Linked DNA regions of Homo sapiens. The protein of the gene in region 4 interacts with the protein of the main gene of each other region in a biochemical or structural test. Each region holds a gene or a part of one and is shown on either strand. Other genes may lie near its edges.

Region 1 (7,661 bases), on a different chromosome or scaffold from region 4:
ATGTTGGCCAGGCTGGTCTTGAAATCTTGACCTCAGATGAGCCTCAGCCACCAAAAGTGCTGGGATTACAGGTGTAAGCCACTGCACCAGGCCTATTGTTGACTTTTCTAGGGGTCTATCTTTTATATGTCTCTACACTAATTTTTTTCTTCAGCATTTTTTGAAGATGTTTGTTTTTGTTGTTTTCTTTTTCCAATTTCTGCACACCCTGCTTGTTCATGATGATTTCTGAACCACATAATCGAGCCAACCACTTTTTGCTATTTCACAGCAGTACTAATACTATTCCTGAACCATATATATTTCAGGAGAAAGAGCAGATTGGGAAAGCCTAGGCCCTTTTCTGTATACTTTTGGCTTGAGCCTAGGTCATCACAGTCTTGAATGTGGGAGGGTGAGTGGAAGGAAAAGGGTCTGTGCCATTCAAAGTGTGCTCTTTTTGCGGACTTTGGGAGTCTCTGGCTCCTGTTTCAGAGCTCCACTTCATCCTCGCCTGTCCCCATCACTCTCTGCAGCTGATTGGCCACCAGACTTTGTGTCTTCTCCCTCTTGGTAATCTCCTCCCTGATTACCCGGCCGTGGTCTTACCCTACTCTAGTCCACCTTGCACTGTGCAGGCAGAGCAACTCTTCCACAATGTAAATAAGATCTTACCCCGGTTCTCACCACCTTCCGGACACTGCCCAAGTTCCTCAGCATCACATACTAGGTCCTTCATCGTGGCACCCTGCAGCTTCCCTCACCCCTCCCCTGGCCACCCACCCTCAGCCACACCAGCCTGGTATTCCCTGTGTAAGTCATGCTCTCTCTCATTCTTGCATATTTTTGTAAATGCCATTTCCTTGTTCTAGAATGTTCTTCCCCCTGCCTCCAGTAGGCCCCTTCCTGCCCACCCAGCGCATTTAGGATCATGCTTCCATGAGGTCCTCTGTAGGAAAAGTATGATGTACTTTTCTGTGCAGGCAGCGATGATACTATGAGCTACATTTCTGTGTCACAGTCCCCACTCATCAGGTATCTCTCCCATTAGCGTGTGAGAGCCTGTTTCCATGCACATAGCCCCTAGCCCAAGTACCTGCCCTCTAGAGCAAAGCATTTCCCAAGCCATTCAGTGGTTTCCCAGGACCTAGCATCCAAAACACAATGAGTTCTAATTACAAGCTTGTTGAAAGGCAAATGAAGAAAAAAACCTGTATGTATAATAATAATAGTCATGAGAAAGACAAGAATGAAGAGAAGAAAGACAATAGTCATCACTGGCATCTTAAATTATGGAGCCAAGGGGAGAAACATTTGGGTCACCCTCAGGATCAAACTGCCAGGCCAGAAGCAATTCCACTGAGAGGGCACCAGGAAGCCTTCAATGCATGGAAACCCTGGAGCAAGTAAAAGGCAAAGCATGTGAGTCACAGCTGAATCCCTGGACAATCACTGAGCTGTGACAAGGTGCAGGGTAGACTCATAACCTAGCACAGAAAAACACATTACTGAGGAAAGGAAAAGAACGTGAATGGGGAATTTTGAGACTTAGCTCTTCACAGAAAAGCATGCTTGGCAATTACAAACTTCTTATATTAAAAAAAATCAGGCAAACCAAAAGTCATTAAAGCATTAAAGATTAAGACCCACTCACAAGGAATTCACATACTCTGCTTCTTTACAAGGGCAGTCTTGCACCTACACTGACTTGGTGCACCTCCTTACACAGAAGAAATCCACCTTCATGACTTGAGTATAAAAAAATGCTTTTCTGATGGCCCATACGTTCCCAGATATCTCCACCCCATCATGCTCTTAAAAGCTGAAGCTGACTTAGTGAGAATCCATTTACACTAAACAGTGTAGAGTAAGACAACACAAGCCAAGCCCATGACTGAAGGGAGCCCACAAAGACTGGGCAGCTCCTCCAATGTAACCGAAGATTCAACCAAAGATTCTAACTGCCCTCCAGCCCCAGGGCTACGGAATGGCCCAGGGAAGGCAGCGTGCAGCTCGCAACTAATAATCCAGGTACAACCAGCAGATCAAAAGCATCCAGTGAGTGGCTCTGCCAAGTCCCTGTCCATAAAAGGTCCATAGCACAATCACTATGTTTTGCTCCATTTTGTAAGCCCAGCTAAAAGGAGAAAAATTCAATCATTTTTCCTAAAGATTGCTGGTTGCGAAAGACCAACTCCTTTTAAGCGTCTATGCACCAAATCTGTAAGATACAGATATTGGGAGAAGGGGCTCCATACCTGTTCAGAGCAGAGATAAACAGTTGGCATTCACTGGTATAGAGCAATTGTCACAACAGTCATTAGGAAGCTGAACAAATGTTGAGAAATCCAAATGTATCCATTCAGAATGGTGCAAAATTCCTATAAAGTCCTACATCAGAAAATGAAAGAAAGACATTTGGGTGAAGGTAATCAAAATGTCTGGCTAACTCTTGCCTTTTCCTGATATATGTTTTCCATAATAGACCCCACTAGCACCTTGATCCTCTACCTTAAAGATGGAAACGGCTTGGCAGAGGTTGTGTTACTAGGCAAGGTCTTGCTACAATTGAAAGGATGCCACCAGAGATGAAAACCCTACATACATCTCTGCCACCAAAAGAAGACTTTGGAATCAGGCATGATGCAACCAAAGATTCTTACTGCCCTCCAGCCCCAGGGCTGCGGAGTGACCCAGGGAAGGCAAGATGCAGCACACAGCTAATAATCCACATGTAACCAGCACACCAAAAGCATCCAGTGAGTGAGTTAAAACCATGCTTCTATCTATCCCCCAGGAGTGGACAGACAAGTCTGCCTAGATTTGAGGCGGGGAAAAGAGGTCTAAATTTTCACAAGAATTAACTTCTTTTTCCTACAAAGAGACAATGAGGTGTTTCTCCTCTTACCTCATGGATTGCTGGAGTAAATGTAGAAACAAAAACTCATTTTCTTGGTCTCCAAGAAAGCAACCAGATTCTCGATGTGAGCAAGTCCCTGCACCTTTGATGCAAGAGTTTGGATATGCTAGGTGAGGGTACCCGAGGCCCTGTTGATTTTATGAGTCTGTGGGCCAGCTCAGACCGGCTGCCAACTCATCTGTATGCAACAGTTCTCAAAGAACATAGTTTACTTTATAACCGGATCCAACAAGAGTAGGCGTGGCAGTTAAGTGAGTGAGATACCAAAGGTGTTGAGCTACCAAGGCTAACTAAGAAGGATTTGTTTATGGAACCCTGGCTTGGAACCAGAAGGCCGGTATGCTCATGTCGATGTGTCTAAGTCAAAGGCATGAAGTTGAACACGTGCGCACATGAGGCTGGATGTTACAGGGCAGGGAAGTAGGGGTCCCCAAGGAGCCCCTCACAAATGTCTCCTGTCCTGTGAATCACTCAGTGGCCCTAGAACAGCAGTCCCCAACCTTTTTGGCACCAGGGACCAGTTTCATGGGAGACATTTTTTCCATGGACCAGGGAGGTGGTGGGGGAGGATGGTTTCGAGATGATTCAAACACATGACATTTATTGTGAACTTTGTTTCTACTGTGTTTACTTATAATAATTACTTTACTTCTATTATATTCTATTATATTCCTTATTTCATTATATATTATATTCTAATATATAATGAAATAATATTCTATTACATTATATAATATTCTATTCTATTCTATAATATTATAGAATGAAATAATGAATATGGGATGAAATAATGAAATATTCTATTCTATTATAGAAGGAAATAATATTCTATTCTATTCTATGAAATAATATTCTATTATATTCCTTATTTCATTATGTATTATATTCTAATATATAATATAATATATATTATGTATTATATTCTAATATATTATATAACATATATTATGTATTATATTCTAATATACTCTATAACATATATTCTGTATTATATTCTAATATATTATATAACATATATTCTGTATTATATTCTAATATATTATATAACATATATTCTGTATTATATTCTAATATATAATATATATTCTGTATTATATTCTAATATATAATATATATTATGTATTATATTCTAATATATAATATATATTCTGTATTATATTCTAATATATAATATAATATATATTATGTATTATATTCTAATATATTATATAACATATATTACGTATTATATTCTAATATGTTATATAATATATATTACGTATTATATTCTAATATATTATATAACATATATTACGTATTATATTCTAATATATTATATAACATATATTACGTATTATATTCTAATATATTATATAACATATATTACGTATTATATTCTAATATATTATATAACATATATTACGTATTATATTCTAAATATTATATAACATATATTACATATTATATTCTAAATATTATATAACATATATTACGTATTATATTCTAATATATCATATAATATATATTATGTATTATATTCTAATATATAATGAAATAATTATACAACACCACCATAATGTCGAATCAGTGGGAGCCCTGAGCTTGTTTTCTTGCAACTAGACAGTCCCATCTGGGGGTGATGGGAGACAGTGACAGATCATCAGGCGTTAGATTCTCATAAGGAGCGCACAGCCTAGATCCCTCGAATGCGCAGTTCACAAAAGGGTTCAGGATCCTGTGAGAATGTAATGCCGCTGCTGATCTGACAGGAAGCGGAGCTCAGGCAGTAATGTGAGCCATAGGGAGTGGTCAAAATACAAATGAAGCTTTGCTCACCTACCACTCACCTCCTTCTGTGCAGCCTGGTTCCTAGCAGGCCACAGACCAGGTGTGGGGACTCCTGCCCTAGAAGGTCAGGCTGACCTGACTTTCTCTTGGCCATTCACCAGCCACCCTGGTCCCGGGGCAATGCAGAACTTTACATCACAGACTTTGCACTTCAGTGGTGGGGTTGAGACCCTGCTCTACCAACTGCAAGTTACCTAGCTTCTCACCTCAGAAGTCTACAGTGGGAAGCTCAAGAGATAGCATATGTAATACACTTGTCATTGAATGAACAGGGTTGAAATCCAACCTACTCCGAGTGTCAGCCTTCTGTCTTCCTCCTCAGCCCACCCCCTAGGGCCATCTCCCACTAGGAGACTGAGGGAGAGGAGTCCTTACCCCACACCCCTCCTGAGTTGCTCTCTTCCCACTGTTCCTCACACTTCACAGCTGGTAATCACTTGAAGCATTGATTGGGTTCGCAAGAAGCAAGAGTGGGTGACTGTGGGCTGGCCACATGCCCCTTCACTGCCTGTCCCCTCCTCCACTCAACACCACACAAGATTGTAGGAGGGATCAACCTCAGCTCAAGAGTCAAAGAGATGAGAAGCATCAGAGCAGCAGCGTAGCTTGGAGACCATACACCAGGTTCCTGACACCAGTCCCCGGGGCAGGACAGCTGAGTCTCCATGATGCTCAGAGAAGGGATAAAATGGAAACAGATGCAAAATTTCACGGAAAAGGCACTTTTGCTTTCAAACATTTATAAGCATAACCAGTCATTACAGATAAGGAAAAAGAACATAGTAGGTTGCTATGGTCTGAATGTGTCTCACAAAATTTATATATTGAAACATAATCCCCATGAGATAGTTTTAAGAGGCAGGGCCTTTAGGAGGTGATTAAGTCATCAGGTAGAGCCCTTCCAGATGGGGTTAGGGCCCTTATCAAAGGGCTCGAGGGAGGAGGTTCATTCTCTTCTGCTGTGAGGACACAGTGTTTGTCCTCTTTCTGCCCGTCTGCCTTCCACCATGTGATGCAGTGGTCAAGGCCTCAGCAGACATCAAACCTGCCTGTGCCTTGGTCTTGGACTTCCAGCCTCCATAACTCTCTGTGGTTTATAAATTACCCAGCCTCAGATATTTTGTTACAGCAGCCCAGACAGAACAAGACACAGGTGTAAGTGAAGCCACTTGCAGAAGGGTTCCCATGCGAAGTGAGGTGGGAGGAGACCCACACTAAGGAGCTACAACATGGTGGGGGAAAGAGCAACAGGCGGGGAGTCCACGCTCCTGCTAAATCTGGCCTTCTCCCTTCACAGGTGGCCTCCTGTGGTCACGCCTGTCCCTGCTGCTGCTTGCCGTCCTTGGGTTCACCCCCTCTGTCCACAGGCCCTCCCTTCTGCACCCCTCACTGCGTGGCCCTCTACCTACCTTTGCAGGCCTCCCAATCCCCCCAGTGGGATATTCCCAAGCCTCAGGTTCACCCAACCCTACCCCTGAGCAGGCCTGGGTGTGGAGGCCAGGAGAACACGCCCTGCAGCCCAACGAAACGCAGGGAGAGGAAGTGTCCAAGGCCAAAGGGGCTGCACTCTGAAGGGACTGAGCACAGGAGGACATGAAGGGAGGCAGTCCCCGGGAGAGGTGGGCTCCTCCAAGGGTGCCTTTGGCTGGAGCACTCTTGCACGGCCGTGGAATCTTCCTTAGACTCCATGGCAGTCTAGGATGCATCCTCCCAACCTGCTCTCCCTCCTCCCCTCAGGGTCTGCCCTGAGTCCTGGTCTGAAAACTCCTCAGACAGCCTCCCTCTGACTTTCCTCACCTGGGCATCTCCTCCAACAAAATCTTGGCATTTTTAATCCCCTCTTGGCATCTGCTTCTCAGAGGCCCTGGACTGGTGCATGAGGCTCTTCAGATGGGATGTGAACTGTCAGAGAGCTTGGCAGGAGGCCCTTTGGAGTCCCACAGAACAACTCAGGAAAGGGGGCTTCCCTGACCCAATGTCCAGCGTGGAGGCCCTAGGGGGCAGGCATTCTGAGCCTCCCCACCTGTGTGGGCTGAAGGCGTGTCTTTGACTCTTGTGATCCAGCAGACAGCTGTGGAAATACAAACACATACAGAGAAACATGTGTCTCCCCCAGGTAAGCATTCATCCTCACAGAATAAACCCCAAACAGGGAGAAGTGTTTTTTAACTACTTCATTCATTTGCAAGGCAGGTACCTTTTGCACAATGGAGCCAGAATGTCTCATTATTATGCAGACCAGGGAGTTATCTTACCTTCATCCCCCACTCCTTGCCCCCAATCTTCAAAACTGGGCCCTTTTGGACCTGCTGGGAATGAGAAAGAGGACTGTTGCTAAGCAACAGGGAGGGCAGGGGATGCATTCTCCCTGTTCCACAAATCCTAGTCTTAAAGCACAAATGATAGCGTTTGCCCTGATGGAATCCTACACCTTCCAGTACCCCAGCGGGATGCACTCTCAGTCCTTCCGCCTTACCACTGTCTTCACGGAGAAATTCCGTTCCTGCTGTGGCGCCTGGCAACTGCTTCACTACCTCTGTAGCCATGAGACAGCCTGAGTCCTCCATGGTGGGATTGTGTGTGACAATGAGAAGACAGCCCAACTCCTCTTTCCCTGATGCAGTCCGGCCCCTCTGTGCTGTGTAGCCTCACCAGGTTCCCAACACTGATGAGGTTACACGCCCAGCATTTACTCCTCAGACTGGACCTGGAGCATCCCGCCGCTGGACCTGAGTGAAGACCAGAGTCAACAGACGGTTTTCTCTTTCTCTTAAAGAAGTTTGGAACATTTGAAACATATTATCCTATTCATGACTAATATTCCAACAGGAGTCATTCAGATAAACAAAAAGCCTTTCCAGGTGCTTGTCTGATTTAGAGGAAGGCAGCACATTCCCATTCACACAACAGAGGGGCCAGGTGCCTCTGAAAGAAG
Region 2 (7,387 bases), on a different chromosome or scaffold from region 4:
CCGGGTGGGGCTGAGCCATCCTGCTCTCCGCTTCCCACATGCCCACCCGTGCCATGTGTTACAGCCCCTACTACATGTTAGTCATGTTTGTGTACAGGGTTGCATTCTCAGCACAGTGCACCGAACCTAGCACACTCTGCCTATTAGGGTAGATATTATTGAATAATAATACATAAAGGCATGACTTTGGGGTGAGCTGCCCAACTTGAGTCCCAGCTGATATTCATAGAACCGCACCACTTGGCAGTCAGGGGTAACCCAACCTTGGAGAGAAAATCCAACCACTTCTTCATCTATGCAGCATTTGAATGTCATGCACCTGTTTGGGGTCAGACACCACCATACTGGGCACTGGATTCCAAGATGAATTAAACACTGCTTCGACCCACAAGGAACTCAGAGGTCAGTGATTAGAAAGCCCAGGTAAGAGCATCCCTGGCTCCTTATGTGTAGGAGCTGTGGCTCCAGGATGGATACATGTGTGCACTCATCTTTTCTTGGGGGATGTGGTAGCGGACGCTTTGTCTCACCCCTAGATGTTGTGACTGGGGATCAGTATTACTTAGAATGAGGGTCAAGAGGACTTACTGAGTCTGCACATAAGGATGCACTTAGGTAAACAACATCACCAAATTGCACCTGGGGCAGAGAATTATGGCCCCTAACATTGACAGCCAGGGGCCATGGAAAAATGTGTAACCTTGTGCCATGGGTTCCTGCGTAATATCTTCCAGGTGACATTCATATTTGCATTCAAGATCTGTATCTATAGATCTGTATCTGTATCTATATGTATGATGTTGTAACTGAGGGAAAGGCCCAAACTGGGCTTGCTCTGTTGATAACAAAATGTCACGTTGCTCCAGCATAAGCAATAGAAAATAGTTGGAACTCTAACAACAACCCCAAAACAATGAATTCTCCCTTGGAACTAAAAAGACTAAGAGACTTGATGGGAATCCGAATGCCAGAACTCTCTCAGAAGCCAGACGTACAATGGCTTGGAAGATGTGGGGCTAAAAGTCCGCCTCAACATACCTTTCTGTAAATGGTCAAATTTAAAGCCCTCCAATCAGATTCTGCCAAGCCAACATTCCTAAATCTTTTCATTGCCTTCTGATCCCATAAATTTACCCCAGGCCTCAAACTGGGGAGACATTTTTTCTTTTTTTTTTTTTTGAGATGGAGTCTTGCTCTGTTGCCCAGGCTGCAGTGCAGTGGTGCAATCTCAGCTCACTGCAGCCTACACCTCCCAGGTTCAAGCAATTCTCCTGCCTCAGCCTCCTGAGTAGCTAGGATTACAGACGCATGCCACCAAGCCTGGCTAATTTTTGTATTTTTAGTAGAGATGGGGTTTCACCATGTTGGCCAGGCTGGTCTCAAACTCCTGACTTCAGGTGATCTGCCCACCTCAGCCTCCCAAAGTTGTGGGATTACAGGCATGAGTCACCGTGCCTGGCTGGGGAGACAGATTTGAATTCACTCCTGTCTCTTTGCTGACCAGTTTTGCAAATAAAGCCGCTGCTTTTTCCAAAGCTAGTGCTTCATAGTATTGGCTTCTGTGCCCATGGGGCAGCAAAACCATTTGCTTGATAAAAATGCGGTGGCTCTCGCCAGTAATCCCAGCACTTTGGGAGGCCGAGGCGGGCAGATCACCTGAGGTCGGGAGTTCGAGACCAGCCTGACCAACATGGAGAAACCCCGTCTCTACTAAAAATACAAAATTAGCCGGGTGTGGTGGCAGATGCCTGTAATCCTAGCTACTTAGGAGGCTGAGGCAGGAGAATTGCTTGAACCTGGGAGGCGGAGGCAGCCTGGGCAACAGGAGCAAGACTCTGTCTCAAAAAAAAAAAAAAAAAAAAAAAAGTGATGTGCTGTTCTTGGTGGTCTGAGTAAGTAAAGGATGAATAAGAAAGACGCCATGTTAAAGAAGCTGAATGTCTGCTAGGAGAGCTAACGCATGTATACAAATAACCAAAATGCAACAAATCCCAGAAGGAATGATCCTGCAGAAACTTCCTGATGAAAAGCTTCAAAAACAGCACCCATAAAGTGCTTTGGGTTTCAAATATAAGCTCAGGTGTTCTGGGCTGGCGAGCTTGCTAGTTAGAGCACAATGCTAAATGGGGCCAAAGGCACAGGCCAGTTACCTGGGGGTAGCTCATCTCAGTGGCCACCAGTGACCTCAAAACCCAGCCAGCCTCATTCCAGAAAGCCACGTTGTGCATAAGTTGAGGGGGGCTGTTGGATACTGGGGAGAGTCCAGCACAATTGTAACTTTTCTATGTCTTCTCTAAGCCCAGATGTCTGCTCTCATTTTAATTTTGCATGATCTTGTAATGGCACCAATCCCAAATCATGTGAATTTAAAATGCCCTAAGCTTCAAAATATACGCTCTCTCTTTATAAAGTTAACATGATTGCTTCTGAGTTTTTAGATAAATTGAATGATTGAGTGCAAAAACACTGTTTAAATCAGAGTGCGATACACATTTTTTAAAATCCCAGTGTAAAAAAAAATATATATATATATTGCTTGGTTTCAGAAGAGAAACAAGCCTTTTGTTGACATGATATCAGGGGAACAGTACTAAAAAAACATCAAAGATAGTCACACACACAAATATCCCAGAGTATTCATAGGGAACACCCTCTGTCTTTCCCATATGCGGTGTGGAAAACGGGGCCAGAACGATCCTGCAGAAACTTCCTGATGAAAACAACCCCGTCAGCCCTTCCCAAGCTTGAGGCCGGCTGCCACGGAACCCCAGCCAGGGCTCCAGCGCTTCCTTCGCGGCTCCAGGGACGCAGTGCCCTGCAGGCATCGCCTGCTTGCAGCCGACTTGAGGGGCTCACGGAGTCCCCTGTGCCCGGGACGCGGCTAGATCCTGGAGAAAACCCCTCCACCCAGCCCCATCTGGCAGATAGACTCCAGATTAGCAACCCCGGAGTCACGTGAGCCAAATTTACGCCGTACCCGGGTTCCAAGGTTAATCACCCCTCGCCCCCTCCGCTTCCCGGCTCCGCCGATGTGCCTCCTCTTCAGGCGGGCCTGGGGTCTGCGTCTCCCAGGCAGCTTTGGGGGTGGAAAAAAGGAGGGGAGCGGGGGAGGGGAAAGGAACTTCTTTGTTCTTTCACCGGATAAACTCAGTTTACGGAATTCTCCAACACCCACTCCCACCCCCAGTGTGCAAATATCTCTGATCCTCACTTGGAGGGCGAACTACTTCATTCATTGAGACTTTTGTGTTCCTGGCCCTAGGCTAAGTATTATCTTGTAAGATCACATTTAAGTTTCCCAACAACCCCCTGAGGTAGGTGTTATTATCCCTATTTTACAGATAAAAAGAAATGAGGTACTGAGAATAGCTTGCCTAGGGTTTTACAATTAATAGATTGGCACAGTTAGGTTTTGAGCCCCAGCCTGTTTTGACCCAAAAGCCCTAATCTTTATAGCTGTTCTTTATATAGCAGGAATAAGAGTAATAACCACTCCTTGCAGAGCAATTACTATATTCCAGGCACGGTGCACGGTATTTCTCCAAACTTCTCTCAGAGGCAGGTTTGCCACTTACCCGTTATGTGGCCTCAGGAAGTTTCTTAACCTCTTTTTGACTCAATTGCCCTGTCTGCAAAATGAGGCTAAAAATATGGTTGTCATGAAGAGTAAAAGAATTAATATATGTAAAGCCTGGCACACATTCATCCCTGAAATTGTTGTTGCTGTTGTTTTTTAACCATCATCTCCATTTCACAGGTAAGGAACCTACCCTTGGAGAGGTGAAGGAGTGAATTAGTCCAGCTTGCCCGCTGCACACCTAGCTGCAGAGAGACCCCGCTCAGAAGCCGTGCGGGATGGGGGCCCCACAGGCAGGTGAATTGCACTTGGCAGGTGGGAGATGAGCTTCTCCGGGGTCGCTGCAGAACGCGCAGCAGCCCGGGAGGCCGTGAATGGTTATCAGTTACCACGCAAGGCTGGGGGTCCGCCCGCTCCGGATTTGCTCGTAGTGCGAGGGCCCCGGCGGTGTGCTGGGGGATCCCGCCGGGCCCACTTAGAAGCACTCGGGGGGACACACCTGTTCGGGACACCTGTGGACGGGGCCCGGCTGCACCGCAGGAGCCCCCCGCCCTGGCCCCCGCGCACACACAGCCCCCCAAGGCGCGGAGGCCGCCGGCCCTCCCGCCCGTCGCGCTCCAGGGCGGAGTTTCCTCCTCTGCTCATTGTTCACGGCCCAGCGCCCGCCCAGCCCCGGCCCCGGCCCCGCCCGGCCCGGCCGCCGCCGCTGGCGGGCTCCTGGGGGAGGGGGAGGGGCGGGGGCGGGGGCGGGGGCCGGCGCTGACGGGACGGGCCAGGAGTAGCCGCAGCCGCCAGTGGGGCCGCAGCCGCGCAGACGCCGCCCAGGACGCAGCCGCCGCCGCCGCCGCTCCTCTGCCACTGGCTCTGCGCCCCAGCCCGGCTCTGCTGCAGCGGCAGGGAGGAAGAGCCGCCGCAGCGCGACTCGGGAGCCCCGGGCCACAGCCTGGCCTCCGGAGCCACCCACAGGCCTCCCCGGGCGGCGCCCACGCTCCTACCGCCCGGACGCGCGGATCCTCCGCCGGCACCGCAGCCACCTGCTCCCGGCCCAGAGGCGACGACACGATGCGCTGCGCGCTGGCGCTCTCGGCGCTGCTGCTACTGTTGTCAACGCCGCCGCTGCTGCCGTCGTCGCCGTCGCCGTCGCCGTCGCCCTCCCAGAATGGTGAGTGGCCGGCCTGGGTTCCGCCGGGACTCCCACCGTGCCCATGTGCCCCCTGCCCGGCCGAGCTGCAGGGAAGCCCGGCGCGCCGCGTGGTCCGACCCCGAGCAGCCCTATCACCGCCGGGGTCACACACGGAGCCCTGACCTTGCACCATCCACGCCCCCTCCAAACTCCGCAGCGCGGCAGGTGCAGGGCCTGGGCGTAGATTCGTCTCCACTCTCCACTCGGGAGGAGTGGGCGGTGGATTCTGCCCGGGCAAACAGGGGCGCGCCGGTGCTAAGTGGGTTTGCATGGGAAAGAAAAGGGAGACCGCACCGCGAGGCTCCACGCTTCTGCGGGACTCTCGGGATCTGATTACACCTTTCCTTCGTGTTGGAGGGAATGAGGGGCTGTAGTGTGTATTCGTTAATTCCAGGCAAAGAGGCAGGCGAGAGGCTCCCGAGGAAGTCCCTGAAGCAGGTGACAAGCCTCCAGCCACGGCCCACGCGGGCGATGTACTTACCCGTTTGCAGAGGTTTTTTCTAAGTAATGTGTGCAGGCTCAACTCCTTGAGCCCGTGCTGGGGCAGGTACAGAGTCGTAAGTGGACCTTCCACAGTCCCAGAGTCACCTGGCTGAGTGGGGGTCCTACCTCCGTGTCCCTAAAACAATCGCTTCTTAGTGCGTGGCTACGATGGTGAGACCCCCCTCGAATCCTCTTGTTCAAACGGGAACTTGTTCAAACGGGAACTTCTCTCTCGTAGAATAGGATTGGGCTGCATTTTAGACACACCTTAGAAAATGTACCTGTCTCTCATGAAACACCTGCACCTCAGAAACATCCCCTCCCTGTTTCTTTTCAAGGTGAAATGTTACTCTTTCCCTTTTGGGGGACAGGCGATGGCTGCAAACTCAACCAGAACAGGTGTTCTTAAGCCCCTAGGGAACAGCCAGAGTCAGCTCAGCCCCACGGGAGAGGTGCATTTCTCATTCTCTTTTGCCCACCTGAGCACATGTCTGCAGGAAGAGCTGAGGTGGTGTGATCACCCTAGGGCCAGGAGGACTGCGGGGACAGCACAGACAGGGTAGGGATTCTGCTGTGAGCAGGTGCCGGCAGTTTGGGACTGGACTCTAAGGGGCCAGGGGAGATGGAAGGGCAGTACAGTCTCTCCTCTGCACCGCAGGAAACCTTTGGTAGTGGGCAGGCGCTGGCACTCAGGGAGCAGGCAGGCGTGGGCATCCTCCTGTGGCCGGCGGGAGACTCCACCAGCCTGACTAGAAAGGGAAGGTCCCGGCGGGGGGAAGAATGTGTGTCCCTGGAAGAGGGGCTGCAGTGTGAGGAACAGTCAGAACAGCTTTCAGAGTGGCAATCACTGAAGAGCCACACGACATGCAGGGTTGAGATGACACGAGAGTATGGTGGCTCCTTAGCCCTACTCTGGGGACAGCTGGACTTCAGGGTGGGCCTTCATACGAACCTTTTGTTGGGAAGCCTCTTAGAACCACCCAGAAGGGCGTTGGGCTGTGTCAGGAAAGAGGGGTTAGTCCCTAGTGCTTCTGAGCTTAAGGAAGCTGAGCCACCCTTCCTTTGAGGAGTGGGAGGCACTGTGGGACAAGACCCTCCCTGTCTGCCCTAAAAGGAAATGTTCATAAGTCACCAGTGGGCAAAGCTCTGACTCCAGCTCACTGCTGGCTTCAAGGATGGCACTGTTTTTCCTGGCACCTGGGCACTGCCAGAAACCATGTCTCTTCCATGAAGCACCACTTCTGGCCTAACACAGGGTTTGGCACATGGCAGAAGTTTGGTATGTGGCAAACAAAAATGACCATAACCCAGTGCCTGCTCTAACCAGCAAGTAACTTGGCCTATCTGAGCACTGTATGCATTATAGTATGCAGCACTGTTGGGAAGCACTTAGAAAAGTGCAAAGTGCTAAGTGGGGGATGGGGAGAGGATGATGATCATGATGGTGATGATGATTTGCATGTATTGAGGCCAGAAAAGGCTTGTGGGGGGCATGTTGCGGCAAGATTGGTCTGTTCAGTAGCTATGGTGCATTCTACACCACCCTCTAGGGACTCAGTAAGGCCAGCTCCATCCCTGTCCTTCTGAAGGTGTGGTCGCCTGGGCTGCTGTCATCGGGAATAGCATAAACACTGCCCCCCATCTGCTGGAATCCTGTGATTTGATTCAAAGCAAGAAAGATTTATAGCTCGAGTCTCTGCAACAAAGGAATTATCCCCAGACAGGTCCATCCCTGCCCCTCTCCCCCAGCTTACCTTCCAATATATGGGCAGATTATGCAGCCTACAGCAAAGAAAGCATTCACCTTAAGGGTTGGACAATTCATCAGACCCCCTTTCAGTGCTTTTTGGTTTGATAACCATCTGGCAGAACCACAATGGTAAGTCACATCTCCGTGCCTCCGTTTCGTTATTTGTGAGATAGAATAAAAGAACCAAAGGGACCTCTAGTTCCACCATGATAAGATATCTGGGGTTCCGTGTTCCCTCAGCTACTGAAAGGACAAGCTGATTCAGTACTCTCAATCTGATGTTCAATGGATGAATTCTGGGCAACAGAAAGGCAGCTTGGTGGGGTGGAAACACTCAGACTTTGGGTCAGAGAGATGTGCATGACCATGGACAAAATAGTGGACCTCCCTGAAC
Region 3 (7,023 bases), on a different chromosome or scaffold from region 4:
GGCTCCCCCTTGCTCTCACATGCTTTGCTATTTTAACAGGGTCAAAGTCTGTGGTGTAAAAATGCCTGTTAACATACCCTTAGGTATTTAAAGATCATAACTAGTAAACTACACTTGGTTTACTTTTGTGGGGCGTTTTAACACCCTTTTGGCATGCTAAAATTCTTATAAAGATAGCAACCATTAATTAAATCAACAGACCAAGAGTAAAACATTAGTATAAGCTCTACCAGTTAATTTGCTGATTTTTTTTTAAGAGATAGGATCTCCCTCTGTCACCCAGGCTGGAGTGCAATGGTGCCATCCTAGCTCACTATAACCTCAAACTCCTGGGCTCAGGCAATCCCTCTGCCCCAGCCTCCTGAGTAGCTATGACTACAGCTGCACACCACCATCCTCAGCTATTTTTTTTTATTTTTTGTAGAAGCAGATTCTCACTATGTTGCCCAGGCTAGTCTTGAACTCCTGGCCTCAAGTGATCCTCCCACCTCAGCCTCCCAAAGTGCTGACATTACAGGTGTGAGCCTTCACGCCCAGTCTAATTTGCTGATTTTAATGAACAGCAGCTGGTTCTATTAGGTTGGTGCAAAAGTAATTGCAGTTTTTGCAATTATAATTATCACTGTGACAGATAATTCCATTTCCTAAATGAGTTGGAGATGGGATTAGAAATAAATACACTTTCTTTGAATCCTCTTATATTTGTGTGTGTTTTTGTGGCCCAGAACCTGAGCCAGCAGAAATGACCTCTTGGGAAAAGTGTCTTCTGTGCACTTTGCTCCCTGGCCCAAGATGACAACTTTCAACTTCCACCACGTCTGGCAAATTTTTAAATTTTTTTTATAGGGACAAGGTCTCACTGTCGCTACAAAAAAAAAAAAAAAAAGTCTTTTTAAAAGACCCCGTCTCGACATTGTACTTTAATCAAAGTAAATTGTAGTGTATGTGTTGCTTTCTTTTCACAGTTAATTTGGATCATGACCTTCATCTTCACCATTGTCCTGGGACTCGGGTTAGGCCTGGCAGCTAGTGTGGCATTTCAACTGCTAACCATCGTGTTCAGGACCCAATTGTGAGTGCTCAAAGTGCTCTGCATCCTGGCAGGCTTGGACCTGCCCAAATCAGAAGAGGAAAAAAAATGTCACTGGCTAAAAGAACAGTAGTTGGTTGATAGGTGTGCATTTCTATCAGGATGGGGCAGTTTATCCTCCCTCCAGTTGCTCATCTCAAGGCCTGAAGGGCAATAGCACGGCCCAGCTTTAGAACATCAGCCCAGGGAGGAGACTTGCTGTTGGTCTGCTTCTGGCTTTGACTCCAGTTCAAATAAATCATATAAATCTCTGAGTCTATTCGCCCAGCTATAAACCAGAAGTAATTCTATTCCAAGCAGGTTTAATGTCTTTGCCTTGTACTTGTTAAACATGGAAATGTGTTACTGAGATTGTGAGATTGTTTCCATCTAGTGGATGGATTTCCTCTTTATAGGTTGTTAGATTGCCCTCGTACCTTTAAAATATGGAGCTGGATTAGAGAACTTCTCAAAGGCCCCTCTTACCTTAAAATTCCACAAAAGCCATTTGGAATTCTTGATTTTTAATAATCATTCAGTCCAAGCATCTTTTTAATTTTTATTTATTTATTTATTTATTGTCTTTTGAGACAGAGTTTCGCTCTTGTCGCCCAGGCCGGAGTGCAACGGTGTAATCTCGGCTCACTGCAACCTCTGCCTCCTGGGTTCAAGCGATTCTTCTACCTCAGCCTCCCAAGTAGCTGGGACTATAGGTGCCTGCCACTGGCTAATTTTTGTATTTTTACTAGAGACAGGGTTTCACCGTGTTGGCCAGGCTGGTTCGTGAATTCCTGACTTTGGGTGATCCGCCCGACTTAGCCTGCCAAAGTGCTGGGATTACAGTCATGAGCCATGGCGACCAGCCTTGATTTTTTAAAATCTCTGCCATGTAACATCACTACCATGTGGTTGCTCAGCCTATTTTGAATTACATGGTGTGACAGAAAAAGATGCTTCCTGGGGAACTAAGGAGTTCTACAACAGAAATTGTTATCACAAAGTCAATCCCTGACTGATGGAATACATCCATATTGAAATACTCCCGAACTCTTTCATTTATTTATATTTCATTCCATTTTTTACTGGGAACCCATCAAACATAGAGACAAACTGAATGGTCATAAGCAAGTCATTTTACTTTTCCATGTTCTCATCCATACAACTGGGTAATCATATCCACCTTACCTCATGGAATAACTGTGATATTCACAATCAAAATGGCAAAAGCATATGGAGTGCTTTGTAAACTGTAACATGACAAATGGGAGGCACTTTTCAGGTGCTGTGAGAGGACACAAAGATAAGTAAAACAAGGTGTTCACCTTCCAGAGTCTCTGATGGCATGATGATTCCCCAACCTTTTACATTTTGAAAAGTGAGCCTGCTTTGGTATGCTGGAAAAAGTCAGTGTTAGCCTTATAGGCTTAACAAACATACATGAATGATTTACTTGGTGTTTTTCTCCCTACAGTCCAAAATGCAGCACGCTGGCTAATATTGGAAGAACCAACATCTATAAGAATAAAAAAGATTATTATGATGTAAGGGAGATTCATGTTTTTCTTTGACTTGCTAAATGATATTAACTATGGATCTAATGGGCAACACCTAACAATGCTTCTCTGCCTTACAGATGTATGAGCCAGAAGGAGTGAAAATTTTCAGATGTCCATCTCCTATCTACTTTGCAAACATTGGTTTCTTTAGGCGGAAACTTATCGATGCTGTAAGGTTTGGGGTTATTTAATTTTTTTCCTTGTAATCTTACTGAATTCTGGGAATGTCATTGTTCTGTAAGGTCATTGTTGAGACTGGGTTGTGTCACATATGTTGAGGTGGGGTTGTGTCAGTATTTTTTGTCCCACGTCCCAGAACAGATGAAACTACCTTATGGGGAGTTTGTTAATAGGTTGGGAAATAAGCCTCTTCAGATGACATCTAATATAGAAGAATCCTTTTCTCAAATTCTGATGTAGAGTAAAAGAAATTTACCAAGTTTTGGGCTGCTAGCTTTTAGTAGATGTCATCCTACAGATTTTCTTTGGGCATCAACTTCAGAAACAATGAAGGAGCATTTAATATTTGACCACATCCTCAAAGAGATTCAGTATAACAGTTGTAAATGAATAGTTAATACTGAATAACAATACATACTGAGTGTCCCTGGCAAACTGGAGAGATGATGACAAGGAAGCAGTCTTGACAGTTAAGAAAAAAAGCTCAGTCCTCCCTCTTGAAACATGCCTTTGGTCTACTCTGTACCTTGCATACAGCCTCTGCCTTAAACCTTAACTATTATTATTAGTTTGATATGCATCCGACATTTTTCTACCGAGTTTTTTGTTGTTGTTTGCAAAATGAGATTATATTGTATATTTGGTTTTCTGTACTGCCCTTTTCGATTACTCTAGTAAACTTCCATCTAACTATATTTTTTGTCAAGGATTTTTTTTTTTGAGACAAGGTCTCGCTTTGTCACCCAGGCTGGCATGATCACAGCTCACTGCAACCTCAAACTCCTGGGTTTGAGCAATCCCCCTACCTCAGCCCCCCAAGTAGATGAGACTCCAGGCATGTGCCACTACACCCCGCTAAGTGCTAAGTTTTAAATCTTTTGTAGAGACGAGGGCTTGCTTTGTTGCCCAGGCTGGCCTTGAACTCGTGGCCTCACGCAATCCTCCCACCTCGGCCTCCCAAAGTGCTAGGATTAGAGGCTTCAGCCACCACGCCTGGCCAAGGATTTTTTATTACATAATTTGATCCTCCTCTCTTACTTATCTGTAACTAAATATTACAGCAATAAGAATTCATTAGTGTTGAAAAAAACAAAGATTAGCCTCAAATATAATACTAAAATTATAAAATAAAATTGTACAATAATAAATAACATACCATTATAAATTTTAATAAGATAAAAATTACATACAAGCAGAATACTTATGTAGGTGCAACTCGTACTCAATAAATAGAAAATAAGTAAAATAAAATTCCCTAAGAGTTGTGTAGGTTCCAAACACAAACAGATTCAAATAGAGTTTATGTCCATTCATGGATAATTTATGGATGAATCCTGGACTGTGTTATACAAAAGCTTTTGACTGTTGATAACTGCATACAGGTGGAGCAGACCATGGGTCTGACCCAATGTTCTGGCTGATATTGTTTAAACCACTTTTAAATTTTGTCACAAATATTTTTATTATCTGTCCCAATCCCTCAAATCACTCCAGTTAAAGTTGTTAGAACTATGCTATATAAATAACAGAATATTCAGTACTCTTGTAACACAGCAATGGGTTTCTCAGGTTGGCTTTAGTCCACTTCGAATTCTACGCAAGCGCAACAAAGCTTTGAGGAAAATCCGAAAACTGCAGAAGCAAGGCTTGCTACAAGTGACACCAGTAAGTTCCTTGACCACATTTCTATGCATTATAGCTAAAAGCTTAGTAAAGGATGATTCAAGGTGTAGTTCCATTCCTTTAAATGAAATGCCAGATAAACAAGGGATTTCATGTGTCAATGAGTGTTATATTTTAAAATGACATCCTTCTGAGGGTCTCCCTAAAATTTTTATTCTCCTGGGAAAAGTACCAAACACAATTGTCCACAATCTTGTTGTTGTTTGAGACAGTGTCTTGCTCTGTGGCCTAGGCTGGAGCGCAGTGGTGCGATCACAGCTCATTGCAGCCTTGACCTCCCAGACTCAAGCGACCCTCCCACCTCAGCCTCCCAAGTAGCTGAAACTACAAGCACATGTGCCACCATGCCTGGCTAACTTTTTTATTTTTTGCAGAGATGGAGTCTTACCATGTTGCCCTGGCTGGTCTCAAACTCCTGGGCTCAAGTGATCCTCCCACCTCAGTTTCCTAAAGTGCTGGGATGACAGGCATGAGCCACCACACCTAGTCCAATCCCATCGTTTGGCTCAACTCAGAATCAGTGCTTCTGAAACTCACTGGCTATCTCTGACATACACAATGTTTTTCTTGGTCACAGTTTTCATACTTGTTATCCTCTCCTGCAGAAAGGATTTATATGTACTGTTGACACCATAAAAGATTCTGACGAAGAGCTGGACAACAATCAGATAGAAGTACTGGACCAGCCAATCAATACCACAGACCTGCCTTTCCACATTGACTGGAATGATGATCTTCCTCTCAACATTGAGGTCCCCAAAATCAGCCTCCACAGCCTCATTCTTGACTTTTCAGCAGTGTCCTTTCTTGATGTTTCTTCAGTGAGGGGCCTTAAATCGGTAATTTCTTTGTTCTTAATGGAAACAACCAATCAATGACTAAAGGTTAAAAAAAAAATTGTATTTGTGGGCTGGGCACAGTGGCTCATGCCTGTAATCCCAGCACTTTGGGAGGCCGAGGTGGGTGGATCACCTGAGGTCAGGACTTCGAGACCAGCCTGGCCAACATGGCGAAGCCCCGTCTCTACTAAAAATACAAAAATCAGCTGGGTGTGGTGGCGTGCACCTGTAATCCCAGCTACTCGGGAGGCTGAGGCAGGAGAATAGCTTGAACCTGGGAGGTGGCAATTGCAGTGAGCCGAAATTGCACCACTGCACTCCAGCAATACAGTGAGACTCTGTCTCAAAAACAGCAACAAAAAAAACTGTATTTGTGGAAGGATGCTCCTTTAGGTAACATGCATTTAATTAGAAGCAAATGATAATCTTAGAGTATTCCATGGAGGGAAAGGTGGTGTTCAGTGGACTCTTGAAAGGGCATTTTTCCATGAGACTGGGTACTATATTGAAGGGAATCAAATCTACAGTTCTAACGTATGCTGAATCTGCTGGTGGACAACTATGCTCACATTCCTTTCAAATTTCAATTCTGTGGTGTTCTCAAATCTTTGTGGGCATTGTGTCTAAATTATTCTGAAATCAGAGAAGATCTGGAAAGGTCCTGGGAAAAAATGTAAGAGTGGATCCTTTTGTTTTATCCTCATCCATTATAAGCTGATGAAATTTCACTTGGCTAAAACCCAAATAGATATATGAAAGAATAAATGTCACATGTGATTTCAAAACACGACTGAAACAATCAGATTGCAGTGTGTTTTCTTTCCACAGATTAATCATATTTCTAAAATAAATTAGTTTCTAACAGAAATGCAGAAACATATAAAAAGAAAATTTAAGAAATTCTACATCTTTCTCTCTTTTTCTTGGGTTTTCACAAAAAATCTGCCCAAGTGAGAGCTGACCTAAGATAAGACCTATTCAGCATGGGTGAACTGGATACAAAATTAGAAAATGGAAGAATTTTTTTTAAATGTTAACATCATGTAACTCTCAAGTCTACTTGCGTTTTCTTTTCTTTTTTGGTTTTGGTTTTTGTTTATTTTAGCTTTTGATTACTTTAGCTTTTGTTTCTGCATTTTCACTCACACACACACACACATTTATTTTTTGGTTCTAGCAGTATAACACAAAGGACAGGGGCTCTAATTCTTAGTTAAGTGCCTAGAAGAGGTTCTGAAAGTGTTTACTGATGATGGCAATGACATTAATGATCATCTAACCTGATCAAACAATATAAGCTACTTTTCTTACTTTACATGATCTTACTCATATCACTACTGGTATTTGTTCTTAGCCTAGAGACCAGAAAAATGTATAAACATTCATTGGTGCTAGATACATCCATTCATTGTGGACAAAAATAATTAGCAACTCATGGTCCATAGGTTCTTTTTTAAAACTTTTATGTAGCAAGAAAGCTCTAGTTGAGATCATCCCAAAGAAGACACTATTTTAAAATTAAATCAGAGTTGTTCTTATGAGTTTGAGACAGAACATTTTCCCATAATACTTCCTTCAAGAATGATCATTTTTAACTTCTTACTGAGGAGAAGGGTTCTTTTGTTTGGGTTTATTTCTGTCACAGAGCCTTGTTTTTAACTTTAGTATCTTCTGACACTATTATCTCTTTTCAAAA
Region 4 (6,884 bases):
CTGTTCTCGCGGGGCTGGCGGGGGGGCGTTCAGTGATGTTCCCTGGTGCTTGCCTGGTCCAAGATGGGGAGACAGAGCCCATGAGAGGCTTCTCTGCCTCCCCCACTCCACACCCTTATTCCCCTGCAGCGCAACCAGGCCTAGGGCGCCAGCCTCACCCCAGTCCCCACCCCACAGGACTGGATCGAGTGGAAGGAAGCCAGATGGGCAGGATCCTGGGGCAACTCCTCGCACGATGCAATGCCACCAGTTCCGGCCAGGTGGCGCTGCGCGGCTACTGTTCCGGGCGGTAGCGTCCGACTCGCGCCTCCAGCAACGGGCGGGGCTAGAGCCGCAGTGGGCGGGGCCACGACGGGTGGGCGGGGTCGCCCCGTCGGCGGCAGCGGTTTCCTGCCTCTCCCCACTCTTGGGTCGTCGCAGTCCCCCGGCCTTCTCTCTCTGTCTGGTCTGTGGGTCTCTGTTGGTCACCTCCTTCTGTCGCGCTGGCTCCGCCTGCTCCAGTTTCAGAATGTAAAGAGAGGCATGGTGCAGCCTGAGGGAAGAGGCCCTAGGCGCGGTCTGGTTATGCTTGAAGGGCCATTAATGTCCATTAGGAAGCCCCGCCTGCCTGAGCAGCTCTGGACCATTACCGGGAGTCGGAATAGTGGCCCCACCCCCAGACAGGGCCCCAGGCCACGGCCACACCCCGGAGCCCCGGTCCAGGTCCAGGCTCGGGCTCCCTGAGATCGCTGGGACCTTGCTGGAGGGATGCGGGTTCAAGGCCCGAAGGAAAGGTCCTGCCAAAACAGGAGTGCACGGGCGGCCCCCACCCCGGTGGACCCCCCACCGACAGCCCAGGGGAACGGCTGAGACCTGCTCTCCCTCTGCTGGATAGGACCCACGCCTGGGTAGCATGCTGGCAGGCGTGGGTTAAGGGGGTTGGGTGGAGAGTTGGGGGATCTCCCAAGCCTCTGATTGCCTCTGCCTTGACTTTCTTCCCTCCTGCTGGGGCCCGGGGAGCCCACGTCACCCACACCCCATCTGCACCCCACAGAACCAGGAAAATAAAGTCCACCCTCCTCTCGATGCTGACCCTACTCCCTCCCGCCCACCTCCCTAGCCCTTTCTTCGAGACACCAAGCACTTTGCGGCCCCTGAACACCTTTGCCCAGGTGCTTCCCTTCGCCTTTCTCTGCCTCCAGCGCAGCACCCATACGGGCCAAGGTCAGCCTCGGACCAGGGCTGAGAGCTTCCGGAGGCTGGCTGGAGAAGAGGCCTGGGAGGGTTTGCCCCCGAGAGCTTCTAGGTCACCCTTCCTCGCCTGTTCCTCCAGGCCCCTGGACTCACTGTCCCCTCTCACTGACTCTGCACCTCCTCTGAAATCGTGACCTCTGGTTCCTCTCTGGCTGCCTCATTCCTCCTGCTCCCTGCTTTGCTAGGCCCACTTCCTTTGTTGCCCGGCCCTTTGCTACTCTGTTACCCTCCTCAGCTCCTTCATGGCTTTGGGGACTCTTTTGTTAACTCTGTAGCAGCAGTGTGTCCGGTGATATTTCCTTGGTTCCTGGCCCTGGTTGTGACCTCATGTCCCTTGTGGCCCCTCCCTCTGCCATGCTGTTCTCCATCCCATCTTTTTTTTTTTATTTGTTTTTAAATTATTTATTTATTGTTTTTGAGATGGTGTCTAGCTCTGTTGCCCAGGCTGGAGTGCAGTGACGCAATCTCAGCTCACTGCAACCTCCGCCTCCTGGGTTCAAGCGATTCTCCTGCCTCAACCTCCCCAGTAGCTGGGATTACAGATGCCCACCACCACGCCTGGCTAATTTTTTTTGTATTTTCAGTAGAGACGGGGTTTCGCCACATTGGCCAGGCTGGTCTCGAACTCCTGACCTCAGGTGATCCACCCACCTCGGCCTCCCAGAGTGTTGGGATTACAGGCGTGAGCCACTGCTCCGGCCCCTCAGCCCATCTTCAGTCACTGGGAGTAGGAATCAGCTGAGTCCTGGGCCAGGGAAGGATGGTGTATGCCCAAGGCTGATCAGGCGTCTGCCCCACCCAGGGCGGGTAAGGTCTGCAAGCCCCCTTACCCAGGGGACCTGGGGCTGCTGGAGTCTCCCATCCAGCCACCTCCCTCGACTCTAGTGTGGCCAGGAAGCTACAGCCTGCCAGGTTTTGGGTGGACCTGGTTGGTGTGGGATGACCCCCTAAGCCCAAACAGGTGTGGTATGTGGGGTGCGTGGTGGTGGGTCACACTGCCCACAGCCATCTTCACAGACTCCAAGGGTGGCAGCACCAGGCTGTGTCCAGGGAGGCCAGCCACAGGCCAGACAGGCAGCCTCTGGACATGCAGACAGAGAGATGGAAGCGGCCGGCCGGGCGGGAGCCTGAAGCAGCCTTACCCAGGAATTGCAGGGGTTGGGGTGGCGAGCAGTCGCGGCGCCTCAGCCTAAGTGGCTTTTAGGGGCAGCTGCCGGGATATGGGCACCCAGGGGGCCATGGCCCAGGAGGCTGCCCAGAGGCGAGCCCTGTGCTTGGGTGGGGGCAGGGGAGCCCAGCCCAGGGCCCCGGAGAGACGAGAGGGAGAGGAGGACTGCGCCAAGCCTGCTTCTACGGCTCACATGGGGAATTGCCTGGGCTGGCTGTGCCTGACCCCTGGGAACCAGGTATGTGCAAGGGGGCCTGGCTGGGCTGGGGAGGAGGGCAGACTGGGGCTGTGCCTGGACTCAGCTACCTTCCTATATTGGAGACAGAGGAAGAGCTGGGTGGTGAAGATAGCATGGACTCCGAATCTCACATCCCTGGGCCCAAATGGAGCTGAGGAGGCTTCGTGGGTCTTTTCCCTCTCCAGGCCTGTTTGCAGGTCTGTGAAGTGGCCGGTCCCCTAGGGTTGTTCCAGGTAAAATGCACTTAGGCCTAAATGATTTCACTGTGGTGGTGACTGTCCTGTTGGGGAAGGAGGGACACTCGTGCTTCAGGTAGAGGCTGAGGGACGTGGACGGCTGTGGGCAGGGGAGGGGAGGCCTGCTGCCTGCCTGTGGACACTGTGGAGCAGCGCCTGTGCACACCCAGAGCTTAGAGCCCAAATAATTCAGTGGAGTGTAGCCCATGTCAGGAGGTGGGTAGCAGGGACCCTCGAGACTCATATCCTTTTGTCACCCTGCAAAGTCACAGTCCAGGCCTGGGGTGGGCTGGGACACAAGTGAGGGGGCCGGCCCGGCCAAGGGAAAGAATGGCAGCAGGGCGTGGGAACCGACGCGGTGCAGATAGGCCGAACACGGTGGGTAGGCCAGGGAGTCTCCCAGCCACTGGCCCCCAGGATGCAGGGAGGGGCTGCTGCGTGTCACTTTTAAAGCCCTTTTTGCCTCCTGGGCCCTCCTGAGACTCTGCCCTGGGCCAGGGAGTCTCCCAGCCACTGGCTGGGAGGGATCCAGGTGAGACACAGCCGAGAGGAGACAGGCAAGGGGGTCCGGAAGGGCTTCCCGGGGAGGGTGGGGAGGGCTGTGGCCCTTGTTCTTACCCTTTGGCCCCTTTGTCGGGGTCCCTTGGCCTGGAGACCCTTTGTCCAACCCGTCGCCCACCTCAAGACCTGCCTCGATGCTGCGCATACAGTAGGTATCCAATAAATGTTCCTGGGATAGAAGGCAAAGGCGCTGGCACCAAGGCGGCTGCCCAGAGTAGGGGCGAGACAGAGAGGTCCCGGTGGTTAAGGGGTCCCCTAGCCCTGCCGCCTCCCCCTGCCCCGCCTCGGGCTGGCCGGGCGCGGAGGTAGGGGCCTGGCCGGGACGGCTGGGACTGGAGGCGGGGGCGGCCGGGCGGCGGGGGCGGGGAAGGGGCGGGCGCGGAGGCGGTGCCGCAGCCCGAGCCGGAGCCCGAGCCGGATCCCGAGGCGACGGGAGCCGAACAGGAGCCGCCGCTGAAGCCACCGCCGGGTGCCCAGCGCCGCCGCCGCCCCCGAGCTCCCCCGCGCCCCTGCCCGCGGGCGGCCGGTGGGCAGCGGGCGCCATGGCCGCGCCGGAGCCGCTGCGGCCGCGCCTGTGCCGCTTGGTGCGCGGAGAGCAGGGCTACGGCTTCCACCTGCACGGCGAGAAGGGCCGCCGCGGGCAGTTCATCCGGCGCGTGGAACCCGGTTCCCCCGCCGAGGCCGCCGCGCTGCGCGCTGGGGACCGCCTGGTCGAGGTCAACGGCGTCAACGTGGAGGGCGAGACGCACCACCAGGTGGGGGCCAGCGCTCGCCCCCGGCCCGCCGCCCCCTCCCCGAGCGCGTCCCCCTGGGGCGAGCAGGGGTCGCACGGGGGCCCGAGGGGGCTCCCGCGGGGAGGACGCGGACGTTGTCGGGAGGCAGCGGCCCGGCGCCTTCGGAGTCCCGGCGCAGGAAGCTCAGTCCTGCACGGGGGTGGGGGGGGGCATCCTGGCAGGGAGGGGCCCGCACTGCGGCTCCTGGCCGCTGGCCTCGCCCTTTGGTCGCGTTTTGGCCTCAGTGTGCCGTGAAGGAGGGTGTTGGGCCGCCTGGAGCCCCTCCGGAAAGGTGAAGACCTGGGTGCTTTTGCCTGGGTGTGTGTGTACACGTGTGCGTGTGAACACAGCTGGGCGTGTGTATGCAGGTCCCTTTGGGGTCAGCCATGTGTGCATGCGCCTGCCTGTGCGTACCCAGGAGGGGTCGCAGTAAAGGCATCAGTGTGTCTGCACCTGTGTGTGCTGTAGTGTGTGTGTGAGTATACAGGTCTGCACGTGTGCCTGTGTGTGTGCAGGTCTGGACTCCTGGGCGTATGGGAGCTGGGCTCTGTGTGTGTGCACGCCTGGCTAGTGTACTCATCACTGTCTGCAGGCCGGTGAGTCTTTGTGTCTGTACTCTAGTGTGTCCCAGCTGGTGTGTCTGGGACCGGGCTGAGTTGGTCATTGCTGGCAACCACATTCCTTAGCTACAAAGGCACTACTCCTCCTCAGAGGCTGCCTAGCCTGGCTGGGGTTACTGGCCGAAGCCTCCTGCCTCCTGGCTAAGGAGAACAGAGCCTTTTCTCTGTGGGTTCTGACCCCTGAGGTGTGTCTGTCTCCCACAGGCCAGGGACTCCCTCCAGACCCTGGTTGGGGTCCAGCGTCCACACACCCCTTTTCCTCCAGGTCCCCTGTCCCTCACAGCACCGATGAATCCATAACCTGTCTACATGGCTGGTCCTGGAACCTAGAGATTAGCAGGTTGGTTCAGCTGGACCTGGAGCTGGTCTCCTGTTTACCTGGTGCCTTGTCTGTCACTCTGTCGGCCGGCCCCATGCCTTCCACCCAGAGTGTCTGCTGTGTAAGGTTGTTTGCTGAAGAATGTGGGGATCAGGCCAGGGGCCTGGACCTGAGGGATTGAGGGTAGGGCTGCCAGGGCTGGGGCCAGGCTGCTGTTGGATAGTCACTGCCACCCTCGCCCTGGGAACACCTGCTTTTCCAAGGCCCTGTGGGGCTGGTCTCTGAGGACTGGACACACAGACCATGGTGGACTCTCCCCACTGCCCCAGGAGGGCAAGAGGGGCAGTTACTGCCCCATTTGACAGTTGAGGAAACTGATGCCAGAGATTGAGGGTAACTTGTCTGGGACACATAGTCAAGAAGCAGCTGGGCACTGGGTTCCTCTTGTCTCACTCTGGGTCATGGGGAGAGAGGAGGGCTGGGGGAAGATGGGCCTGGCTCAGTCCCTCCTATCTGTTCACCACCCCTGCTGAGCCCGGCAGCTGGTGGGGAGCCTTGTCCACCCTCCCCCAGGCCGCAGGTGGGAGTAGGGCTGCCCCTCTTCCTGCCCACTTCCCAGTGGGCACTGCTTTCTCTCCGCGGGTGTGCGCTGGCCCCCCGCGTGGTCCAGACACTTCACAGGCACCTGCACGCACACACCGACGGCCACCAAGCCACAGCTGTCCACAGGTGCACCTGCCTCTCCCCCTCGCCGGCTGCACCTGAATCCTGCTTCCCTGGCTGTGTGTGGGTGCCCGAGCCAGGAGCCCAGCCCTTCCCCTCTCTGCAGATCCAGAGGGAATGGGCCCATGGCCATGGCCTGGAGGTAGATATAAGGCCTAGGGTCAGGAGTTTAGACTCCCACACTGCACGGCAGAGAATGACGGGAATGGGCACAGACACACTCAAACTGGGGCCCAGGGAGACACACCTCTCCTTCAAACCTGGACGGAGACACAGACTTTGAAACAGATGGATGCATGCGCGCACAGGGACAGGCAGACTGAAAACCTGAAGGTCCACTGTGCACCATTTTTGTCACTTCCAGACAGGACTTACCCAGCGGCCCTATCCTGCAGCCCCTTCCCAGCCCCGCCTGGAGAAGACCCTGGGCTAAGGGCAAGGCTCTGGGAGCACCCTGAAGCCCTCACAGCCTGGGCCTCAGTGTCCGGAGCCTGAGTGCAGAGGGAGGGAGCCGCTGGAGTCCGGGGGTGGGGGGCGGGGCCGGCAGGCCTCTTGGTGCAGCCACCCGCCCATGCAGACCAGCCGCCTGTCCGCACGCCTGGGCCAGCCCAGAGTGGTGCCACTGCCCATGTGCTGCCCGGAATGTGGGCCACTGACCCGCTCCTATCGCCCATTCGCCCCAGGTGGTGCAAAGGATCAAGGCTGTGGAGGGGCAGACTCGGCTGCTGGTGGTGGACCAGGAGACAGATGAGGAGCTCCGCCGGCGGCAGCTGACCTGTACCGAGGAGATGGCCCAGCGAGGGCTCCCACCCGCCCACGACCCCTGGGAGCCGAAGCCAGACTGGGCACACACCGGCAGCCACAGCTCCGAAGCTGGCAAGAAGGTATGGCGGGCTTGGCCCACAGGGACCACCCTAGCCTCTCCCAGAGGCTCTCTCAGCTTTTGACGACGATCTTTGCCTTTGGTCACCTCCAGAAGTCTTGGTCTCTTCTGCCTTTTGGGGCTCCTTTTC

Evidence for each region.
Region 1: the proteins of NHERF2 (region 4) and KCNJ1 form a complex in vitro, tested with the Homo sapiens proteins (2 studies listed by BioGRID and IntAct, with this or other methods).
Region 2: the proteins of NHERF2 (region 4) and PODXL form a complex in vitro, tested with the Homo sapiens proteins (3 studies listed by BioGRID and IntAct, with this or other methods).
Region 3: the proteins of NHERF2 (region 4) and SLC26A3 form a complex in vitro, tested with the Homo sapiens proteins (2 studies listed by BioGRID and IntAct, with this or other methods).

What each region holds. Positions count from the first base shown.
Region 1 is NC_000011.10:128,864,286-128,871,946, forward strand, and holds the start of KCNJ1 (ATP-sensitive inward rectifier potassium channel 1), read right to left. Parts: upstream 3,012-7,661; 5' UTR 2,888-3,011; exon of another isoform or gene 2,465-2,887; intron 2,371-2,464; exon of another isoform or gene 2,268-2,370; coding exon of another isoform or gene 2,238-2,267; intron 1-2,237. UniProt on the Homo sapiens protein: Inward rectifier potassium channels are characterized by a greater tendency to allow potassium to flow into the cell rather than out of it.
Region 2 is NC_000007.14:131,553,612-131,560,998, reverse strand, and holds the start of PODXL (podocalyxin isoform 1 precursor), read left to right. Parts: upstream 1-4,370; 5' UTR 4,371-4,639; coding exon 4,640-4,739; intron 4,740-7,387. UniProt on the Homo sapiens protein: Involved in the regulation of both adhesion and cell morphology and cancer progression. Functions as an anti-adhesive molecule that maintains an open filtration pathway between neighboring foot processes in the podocyte by charge repulsion.
Region 3 is NC_000007.14:107,772,224-107,779,246, reverse strand, and holds part of SLC26A3 (chloride anion exchanger), read left to right. Parts: intron 1-965; coding exon 966-1,072; intron 1,073-2,540; coding exon 2,541-2,610; intron 2,611-2,702; coding exon 2,703-2,795; intron 2,796-4,374; coding exon 4,375-4,470; intron 4,471-5,093; coding exon 5,094-5,327; intron 5,328-7,023. UniProt on the Homo sapiens protein: Mediates chloride-bicarbonate exchange with a chloride bicarbonate stoichiometry of 2:1 in the intestinal epithelia. Plays a role in the chloride and bicarbonate homeostasis during sperm epididymal maturation and capacitation.
Region 4 is NC_000016.10:2,023,028-2,029,911, forward strand, and holds the start of NHERF2 (Na(+)/H(+) exchange regulatory cofactor NHE-RF2), read left to right. Parts: upstream 1-3,874; 5' UTR 3,875-3,978; coding exon 3,979-4,191; intron 4,192-5,148; exon of another isoform or gene 5,149-5,169; intron 5,170-6,554; coding exon 6,555-6,755; intron 6,756-6,884.